3 linked regions of the Homo sapiens genome follow. The protein of the gene in region 2 purifies or fractionates together with the protein of the main gene of each other region. This does not show direct contact. Each region holds a gene or a part of one and is shown on either strand. Other genes may lie near its edges.

The links.
Region 1: the proteins of TAF7L (region 2) and TAF9B purify together in Homo sapiens (affinity purification with mass spectrometry; 2 studies listed by BioGRID and IntAct, with this or other methods). This does not show direct contact.
Region 3: the proteins of TAF7L (region 2) and TAF5 purify together in Homo sapiens (co-immunoprecipitation; 3 studies listed by BioGRID and IntAct, with this or other methods). This does not show direct contact.

Annotation. Positions count from the first base shown.
Region 1 is NC_000023.11:78,133,030-78,136,691, forward strand, and holds part of TAF9B (transcription initiation factor TFIID subunit 9B), read right to left. Parts: intron 420-3,662; coding exon 309-419; intron 1-308. UniProt on the Homo sapiens protein: Essential for cell viability. TAF9 and TAF9B are involved in transcriptional activation as well as repression of distinct but overlapping sets of genes. May have a role in gene regulation associated with apoptosis.
Region 2 is NC_000023.11:101,270,891-101,274,341, forward strand, and holds part of TAF7L (transcription initiation factor TFIID subunit 7-like), read right to left. Parts: intron 1-3,451. UniProt on the Homo sapiens protein: Probably functions as a spermatogenesis-specific component of the DNA-binding general transcription factor complex TFIID, a multimeric protein complex that plays a central role in mediating promoter responses to various activators and repressors.
Region 3 is NC_000010.11:103,387,197-103,389,653, reverse strand, and holds the end of TAF5 (transcription initiation factor TFIID subunit 5), read right to left. Parts: coding exon 2,302-2,457; intron 2,134-2,301; coding exon 1,956-2,133; intron 1,649-1,955; coding exon 1,431-1,648; 3' UTR 589-1,430; downstream 1-588. UniProt on the Homo sapiens protein: The TFIID basal transcription factor complex plays a major role in the initiation of RNA polymerase II (Pol II)-dependent transcription.

The sequences.
Region 1 (3,662 bases), about 23 Mb from region 2:
TTCTTGCCGTGCCTAATTTATAAATTAAACCTTATAATTTAGAAAGTTTATAAATTTAACTTTAAAGGTTGTAAATTTAACTGGGGGTCTTGGAACAATCCCTCAAGGATAAGGGGGGAGACTACTTTATGTAAAATTTCACAGAATTTTAGAGGGCTCATAGGTCCCTCTGAAGAACCCTCATTTGCAGCATTACTGCCACCTTCCTGTTGGGTATTAAAACAATTTACCTCTTGCTATAGGAATACAAACGGTCCTACAATTTCAAATTATTCACAAATTCTGTCCCCCACTCCCAATCACATTACCTGGTTTGACAGGTGTGGACTGAGAAGGTGGAATCTGCACCGTAAATCTTTGGCTTGTCACTGACATTGGAGTTGCAACTTTATTTGGGACAGACACCGTTTGTGGGGTTGCTGTAGTTACAATAAACAGACCATGTTTGTTAGGTGACTTATACAGATTTATATTCTACACTCAGCTTACCGCAAACTATCTTCAAAGCAAAGGAAACTAATAAAAGGTGAGGAAAAAGTCATTAGAAATAAGAGCAAAACAACCTTAAAAAAATTTACAAGCTTGTTTAGATGTTACAAAATTCAGTATAGAATAGTGGTAAAGAATGTAGGCTCTGTAGCCTACCTGCTTGAGTTTGAATACAGGCTCTCACCTACTAGCTGAGTGTCCTTGGGCAAGTTTATTTAAATTTTTGTGCCTCAGTTTTCTCCTCTGTAAAATGGGGGATATATCACCCATTTCATATAATTATTGTGAAAATTAAGTAAAAATAATCCCTGTAAAACTCTTCAAACAGCCTCTAGTACACAGTAAGCACTGAGGTATAGCTGGATGAAGACATAAAGATGAGAGTTTAACCTACCAGAATAAAGACCCAGGTTTTCTATTTATTACCTTAGTTGGCACTTTTAATCTTGGTCACCTGCTGAGAATCAGAAGATGTCATCTATGCCCATGAAACTAAAGCAGAGATCAAATACACCCCTTGAGGTCTCCAGGTGGGCCCAGAAAATTTATTCCCTTTCTGTGTTCAGATACTTTTTAAGCAGAAAAATATCTTGGAGATAACCTAGTCTAAACCCCCAGTCATCTAAATTCTACCCATTATTCCAAGGTACAGCTCAAATACTACCCCGTTTTATAAAACTTTCCTTAATTTTCTCAGTTAAACGTCTTATATCCTGCCTCTGAAGTTCCCTTAACGTCATAGGAGTCATTATTATCTTATCTCATTGACTAGATTACAAGCCTTGACTAACATTTTTCATCCTTGTGAGCACATGGCTCTTTTACCTTGCTCCTAATAGGTACTCAACAAATGTTTGCTTAATAAATGTATTTTGTAAGACTCGAAGACTTAATATATATACTGACATCATTGCTCTCTTAAAAAATACATTTATGGAAATGTATCCATTTCCAATTTTTCATTTGGGGATGCAGGCTTTCCAATACATCCCTTCCCCCTGGAACCAGCAGTCTACCCAGAGATAGAGTTGCTGAGGACACTGCAATTATCATCATTTCTAGAGACAAAGGTGAAGAAAGTCTAAGGGAATAAAGCCCAAAGGTACTGAGAAATCCGGGTTTTACTGCTTTCTCTCCCAAACACAGAAGGTGAGACCTTCCTCTAAAATATCTCCATCCCTAGGTAAGTTTTCCCATGTGTTAAGGATCAGTTCAAAGAATTTGGTGAAGCGTAATGAAGCAATGTAAGTATTTTATTTTATAAAGAAAAAAGAAAACTCACAGTAGGTGGATGTTTTCTTGGCCTAAGGATTGTTAATACATTTTAGTAGGTATGGAGTTCAGGCTTTAAAACTGAACACATTAGACTGTAGATGGAGCTTCCCCCAATTGAACAGAGTAAATACTCAGGTCTTAAGTCTATATAAATCATTTTAATTTTTTTTTTTTTTTGAGACAGAGTCTTACTCTGTCGTCCAAGCTGGAATGCAGTGGCATGATCTTGGCTCACTGTGACCTCCGCCTCTTGGGTTCAAGCAATTCTCGTGCCTCAGCCTCCCGAGTAGCTGGGATTACAGGCACCCGCCACCATGCCTGGCTAATTTTTGTATTTTTAGTAGAGACGGGGTTTCACCATGTTGGCCAGGCTGCTCTTGAACTCCTGACCTCAAGTGATAGGCCCACCTTGGCCTCCCAAAGTGCTAGGATTACAGGTGTGAGCCACCGCACCTGGCCAACTCATTTTAATTTTTTTAAATTTTAAAACTTGCATCTTTATGCCTGGCGTGGTGGCTCACACCTGTAATCCTAGCACTTTGGGAGGCCGAGGCAGGCAGATCACTTGAGGTCAGGAGTTCAAGACCAGCCTGGCCAACATGGTGAAATCCCGTCTTTACTGAAAAAAAAAAAAAACACAAAAAAACAAAAATTAGCCTGGTGTGGTGACGCACACCTGTAATCCCAGCTACTCGGGAGGCTGAGGCAGGAGAATTGCTTGAACCCAGGAGGCAGAGGTTGCAGTGAGCCAAGATTGTGCCATTGCACTCCAGCCTGGCCTGGGTAACAGAGTGAGAGTCTGTCTCAAAAAATAAAAAATAAAAACAAAAAAAAACTTGCATCTTTAAAACTATCAGGCGTTTTTTGGTAGTGCCCTGACTCTAGATTTTAACAATCTCTGAACAGTATGTACAACAAATGTCTAGCTAGGAATAAAAATCACAACTGATAACTAAAATTGGTTAACCTGCCTAACACACGAAACTGATTACCAGCCTAGGGGTTTAAAAAAGCTGGTATTCATTTAAGTAATGTGAACCCACAGACAAACAGTATATGATGAAAATTTACAAAGATTATAATGCAGATTTCTGTCCACAAAGGTCACAGGTAGGTAATTAGACATGTACAACTAATACTATACCCAAACTGGTTTTACAATGCTGAAATGCAAATTTACATCCTGAGAATATGAAGAGAGGGTTTACACACCTCAAAAATCAAATGCTGTTTATACCTGAGCTATATGACAGCTATAGGACTCAAGTTATAAGCAATAAGAGCCAATAAATTAATACTGGTGAAAAGGGACTTTTCTGAAAATACTTTGAATACTAGACTATGCAAGAAACCCAGCAGGAATGTAGGAAAAAAAAAACAGGAAATCTAAGTCCATTATTTGTTTTCCTTATTATCTAAACAACAATATTAAAAAGAAACAAATAATGGTTTCTAAATACCATTCTCCACTAAAAGGAACTAGAGCTCTTTGGACAAGTGGATGATTCTAGGACCTAGGCAGAAAAATATAAAGATGAGTTTGGAACATCTTGTTGCATCAGAAAGCAAGAAATGATCACAGAATGATGCAGATACGTCAAAAGGACACAGGAAACAGCTTGAAGGGGCTCCCACTGACCAATCTAAAACAATCAGTACTATGTTTTAAAAAGGTTAGTATTAAAAACAATTTTTTTCTTTGAAATCCTTAAGATTTTTGTACACCTTAATCTTCTTTCTACTGTATTCTCATCAATGTATTTGGAAATTTAAATTTCTAATAAGTAGTCTACTGCCATAAGTGTGTGTGGCACCTTATAGAAGGCGTAAAGTACACAGCTAAGAGTAAACTCCTGTTTTTGGTATCAGAGTTTATACCAACAACAATGGGGGCAATG
Region 2 (3,451 bases):
CCCTGGCATCACCACCTCTGAGCCAGTGTGCATGCTGCTTTCTCATGGAATGCACTCCTTTCCCTATCTCCTTATTAAAACCCTACCTATATTTTAAGGCCCCAGTCAAACACCATCTTCTCCATGAAGTCTTCTTTAATATCCATGGACAATCTGTCATTCCTTTAAGTCCCTACCCCTCTTGCCAATTTCTCCCCAAATGAAGACAGAGACTACATCATAAGCATATCATAGCTCCCTGTAGAGCCTAGCTTAAAGTAGACACCTACTAAATCTAATTTGGATAAATGAACTAACATAAGGGACTCTGAGTAAATAAAGTTTACAGCTACATTTCTATGCTGCTCCTCAATACTAAATATAGTCATGTGTTACTTAACAATGGGGATATGTTCTAAGAAATGCATCCTTAGGCAATTTTGTCATGACGCGAACATGATAGAACATACTTACACCAACCTAGATAGTATAGCTTACTACACACCTAGGCTACATAGTATAGTCTATCGTTCCTAGGTTACAAACCTGTACAGCATATTACTGTACTGAATACTGTAGGCAATTGTAGCACAATGTTAAGTATTTGTGTATCTAAACATAGAAAAGGTAAACTAAAAATACAATATAAAAAATTAAAAATGGTACACTTATATAGGGCACTTACTATGAATAGAGCTTGCAGGACTAGAAGTTGCTGTGGGTGAGTCAGTGAGTGAGTGGTGAGTGAATGTGAAGGCCTAGGACATTACTATGCACTACTGAAGACTATATAAACACTATATACTTAGGCTATAGTAAAATAATTTAAAAATTAAGTAATTCTGCTGCTATGTTATGATGGCCACAGTGTCACCAGGTGACAGGAATTTCTTAGCTCCATTATAATCTTATGGGACTACCATCATATATGCAGTCTGTCATTGGCCAAAATGTTGTTATGCAGCATACAACTGTACTTACATTGATGAAAACAAAGATGTTTGGTGGGTACTAAAACAATCCTGGCATTAACTGTTCATCTGATTGTTTTAAAGCAGTATTAAGCAGTACTTGGATAAGTGATTTGCTGAGAGGAAGGGAATATATAGAACATAAAAATTCCGCTAGCCTTGTGGGGATGGGGGTGGGGAGTAGTGCCTGTACTTCAAGAGCACCATGCTAAGCCCATCCTCATAATACCAACTCCAGTCTCTTTAAAATTGTAACCCTCAACAGTATAAGGTTAGAGTCAGCACACATTTTCTATACAGCTGCTTGACCCTCATTTAGCCTATATTGCCTTCTTCTCTCTTCGCCCTGTACACTCTCTTGTGGCTTTGAAAAATACAGTTGTCGTTCAAGTTAGAAATACATACATCCTTAATGATTCCTTCTCCTTCAACACCCAGTAATTGACCCAACTCCTGTCAATTCTACCTTTAAAGTATATTCTCTAATATATCAATATTCATTGCAGCATTATTCATAATAGCCAAAAGTGAAAGCAACCCAAATGTCCATCAGCAGATGAATGAATAAACAAAATGTGGTATATTGATCCAATGGAGTATTAGTCAGTTTTAAATGGAAAAAAGTACTGATACATGCCATAACATGGATGAACCCTGAAAATATGCTAAATGAGAGGAGCCCGACTCAAAACACCATGTATTATATGATTTCACTTGTATGAAATAACTAGAATAGGCAGTAGATTAGTAGAAACTAGATGAGTGGTTGCCTAGTGCTGGGCAGGGGAGAGGTTCTGGAGAAGTGGGGAGTGACTACTAATGGATACAGGGTTTCTTTTTGGAGTGATGAAACTATTCTAAAATTGACTGCAGTGGTGGTTGTACAACTCTGAATATGCTAAAAGCCACTGAATTGTATAGTTTAAATGGGTGACTTGTCGGGGGTGGGGAGGACGGGGTTTGAGGCAGTCTCACTCTGTCACCCAGGCTGGAGTGCAGTGGTGGGATCTCTGCTCACTGCAACCTCTGCCTCCCAGGCTCAAGCAATCCTCCCACCTCAGCCTCCCGAGCAGCTGGGACTACAGGCATACACCACCATGCCTGGCTAATTTTTGGAGAGACGGGGTTTCACCATGTTGCCCAGGCTGGTCTCGAACTCCTGGGCTGAAGCCATCTGCCCACTTTGGCCTCCCAAAGCGCTAGGATTACAGGCACGCACCACCGCACCCAGCCTAAATGGGTGATATTGTATGGTTTATGAATTACATCTGTTATAAAAACATTTTTATTGCAGTTTAAAAATCTATATTCTTTCAATCTCCATTGCTACTAACTTAGTCCAAGTTACCATCCTCTGTTATTAGAGTACCACAAAGCCCCCCAACCAGCCTCTTTGCTTCTACTCTCACCTTCTTCCAACCCATTCTCCAGATAATAATCAGAGTAACCTTTTAAAAGTTTAAATTAGGCCAGACGTGGTGGCTCACGCCTGTAATCCCAGCACTTTGGGAGGCCAAGGCAGGTGGATCACGAGGTCAGGAGATCAAGACCATCCTCGCTAACACGGTGAAACCCTGTCTCTACTAAAAATACAAAAAATTAGCCGGGCATGGTGGCACGTGCCTGTAGTCCCAGTTACTTGGGAGGCTGAGGGAGGACAATCTCTTGAACCCGAGAGGCGGATGTTGCAGTGAGCCTAGATTGTGCCACTGCACTCCAGCCTGGGCGACAGAGCAAGACTCCATTTAAAAAAAAAAAAGTTTAAATTAGATGTGATTTTCCTATCTACAATTCTTCAAGGACTTCACATTACACTTAAGGCCAAACCCATCCTCCTTATCATGGCCTTCAAGGAACCATACACTATGGTCTCTGCCTACTTCTCCAACCTTATCTTAAGCCATTCTCTTCCTGGCTTTAAATACTCCAAAGGTCCTCAAAGAAGCCAAGTTCTTTCTGAGCATGAGACCTTGCATACGCTCCACCTAAGAGGCTCCTCATCCCACTCTTTGCCTGGACTTAATCCTTCCGGTCTCAGCTTCAATAGCACCTCCTAGGAGAGGTCTATCATGATCCCCCAATTAATTCAAGACCCTTTATTCTAATAGCACCACTGACTTTTTTCCTTCATAGCACTTCTTCACAATTTGTAACTTTATATTTGTATAATTTGTTTATTGTCAATCTCCCCTGCTAGACAGCTCCACGAGGATAAGTACAGCAGGTCCTTGAATAACATCGTTTTGTCCAATGTCGTTTTGTTACAGTAAGTCCTCACTTAATGTCATCAATAGGTTCTTAGAAACTGCAACTTTAAGCAAAATGACATGCAAAAGGTCTCCAAATAACATTGTTAGTTCAATGTCATTTCATTATAATTTTTTTTTTTTTTGAGACAGGGGCTCACTTTGTTGCCCAAGCTGGAGTGCAGTGGTGTGATCATGGCTCACTGCAGCCTCAACCTCCTGGGCTCAAGCAATCCTCCCACCTTAGCGTCCTGA
Region 3 (2,457 bases), on a different chromosome or scaffold from region 2:
TGGAATGTTAGGTTAAAATGTATTAATCTGAGGCCAGGCACAGTGGCTTACACCTGTAATCCCAGTACTTTGGGAGGCTGAGGCGGGTGGATCACTTGAGGTCAGGAGTTCGAGACCAGCCTGACCAACATGGTGAAACCCTGTCTCTACTAAAAAATACAAAATTAGCCGGGTGTGGTGGCACATGCCTGTAATCCCAGCTACTTGGGAGGCTGAGGCAGGGGAATCACTTGAACCTGGGACGCGGAGGTTGCAGTGAGCCGAGATTGTGCCATTGCACTCCAGCCTGGGCAACAAGAGCGAACTCTGTCTCAAAAAAAAAAAAGTATTAATCTGAGATACACTTTAATTTTTTTGGTGTTACATCTTTGACAATCTAATAAATTCGCATTCAGTTTCAGTGGGTTCATGTTACCTTAGTAATTCTTGAGTGTCTTAAGAGTAAAGCTGGCCACATTTGTATCTAAACTGTTTGCTTTGTTTATAGGATTTTAAACTGTCTACGGTTCTTAACCTCATCTGTTAAGTTCCCATGCCTGGAGAAGCTAATGCCAACTCATCATGTGATAATTCAATTTGTACAATAAATTATGAACCTGGAAAAGCTGGTTGTCTTTATTTACAAGATATCAAAAATATAAAAACTGTACAAAATGCAACAAAGGCAAAAACTGGCAGTGACTTGGTCTAAATCTTTTAGTTTCCCAAAGCAAGGCTCAGTACTGGAGGTAAGCAACTGAAATGTCTGTCTGACTTCAAGTGTACTAGGTTGTATGTAGCTGTTTTAGCTGAAGTAGAACATGGAAGCTAAATTTCTTCACCTGGTTTATCGAGTGTTTGGGTGCACTCAAAACTCAACAGGTATATAAATTCAGATGTCAGTGGGTGGCTGTACTTCCTCTAGATCTAAGAAAGGAACCCTACCTAGTTACATACATTCCATTAATCATGGGCCAAGAAAAAAAAAGTTAGTGGATCATTTAACATAGTTTTTGAGTGCCATACAGTAACTACGTTTTTACAGCAGAAACATACATGCTCATAGGATTCTTCAGCTAAAATTCAAGATGATAGTATATTTCTGAATTTGAATCTTGAAGCAGGATGAATTATTGAAATCAACTTTTTTTCTAAATGTAATAAATTAAAATAGCATTTGAACAGAAAATGCATAGTTTCCACACAATCCAAAGCACCATAAATGTCCCCTCCATGATCATAATACCTCTTATTCAACTAACGGAAATTAGTCAAATGTGGTTGCTATAGAAACGTGGAACTGTCCTGTTCAGATTTTTCCAAGCAGCATACTTCCAGATCCATATAGACAAAAACATTCTCTGTAGCTTAAATATTAATCACTGAGGTATTTGCTTTTAGTCTCCCTTTTTAAAAACAGTAGCTTCCAAAAGGTCTTTAATACCGATGGTTTATTGTGGACTATAAGCTCCTGCAGCTAGAACCAGGTTTCTTCGAGTAAAATGAAGGTGTACAACTGGTGTTGATTTGGTCATATATGTTCCCAACAATAACTCCTGTGAATTCTCAGGTAAATTTATATGCCCAGTGGCTGTAGTAAAGTCATCGGTCTCTAAATCTTCAAAGGCTTTGATAGCATCCCATAATCGAACTGTATTATCCATTGAACCTAAGGGGAAGTCAAAGGAAACCATTAGTTGCATCCATCATATTTACATTCGGACATTTTGTCCACTACACTATGTATTTACTGTACATTTTGGGTGAAAAATCTAAACTTGACCAATAACTCTATTCCTTCCTAAGGAGCATTATCAAGCAGTACTTTAACCTGAGAAGTGATTGATGTAGGATGACACTCTGGAATCATAGCTAAAGGGAAGTAAAACCTAAAACATAAGGACTTAGTATTGCAGTCGTCAACACTGTTTCCTCTTAACATAGCATTTATCGTAAAGCCATTAATAGTCATTTACCTGATGCCAAAATTTCACCATCTCTACTAAACCTAAGTGAACAGACTGTATCAGTGTGGCCTTTTAATTCTCCAACCATCAAACCATGTCCAATATCCCAAAGAAGCACTCTGCCATCTGTTGCTCCTGTAGCCAGGAATCTCCCATTGGGAGAAAATGTCAAGGAATGAATTGGTCCCTAGAAAAAAGTTCATAGAAAAGATCAAAGTATGTCTAGGAAAATAAGACAAAATTTTAAAGTTTTGTAGTAAGAATGGTATCTTTAAAATTTATGTGTCACTTGTTTAAAAAATATTTTTATTTTGAAAGCAACCTTGGATGCTGGAATAGTAAGAGTGTAAAATACCTTGTGTCCAGTGAAGATCCTTACACAGTTACCATTCAGGACGTCCCAGAGCCGCACAGTTCTGTCTGCAGAGCCCGTAGCAACATAATTAGAATTTGGATGGAATCTGGTACAATTCACATCAGCAAGATGGCCGGCAAATATTCTTAAAGGCTG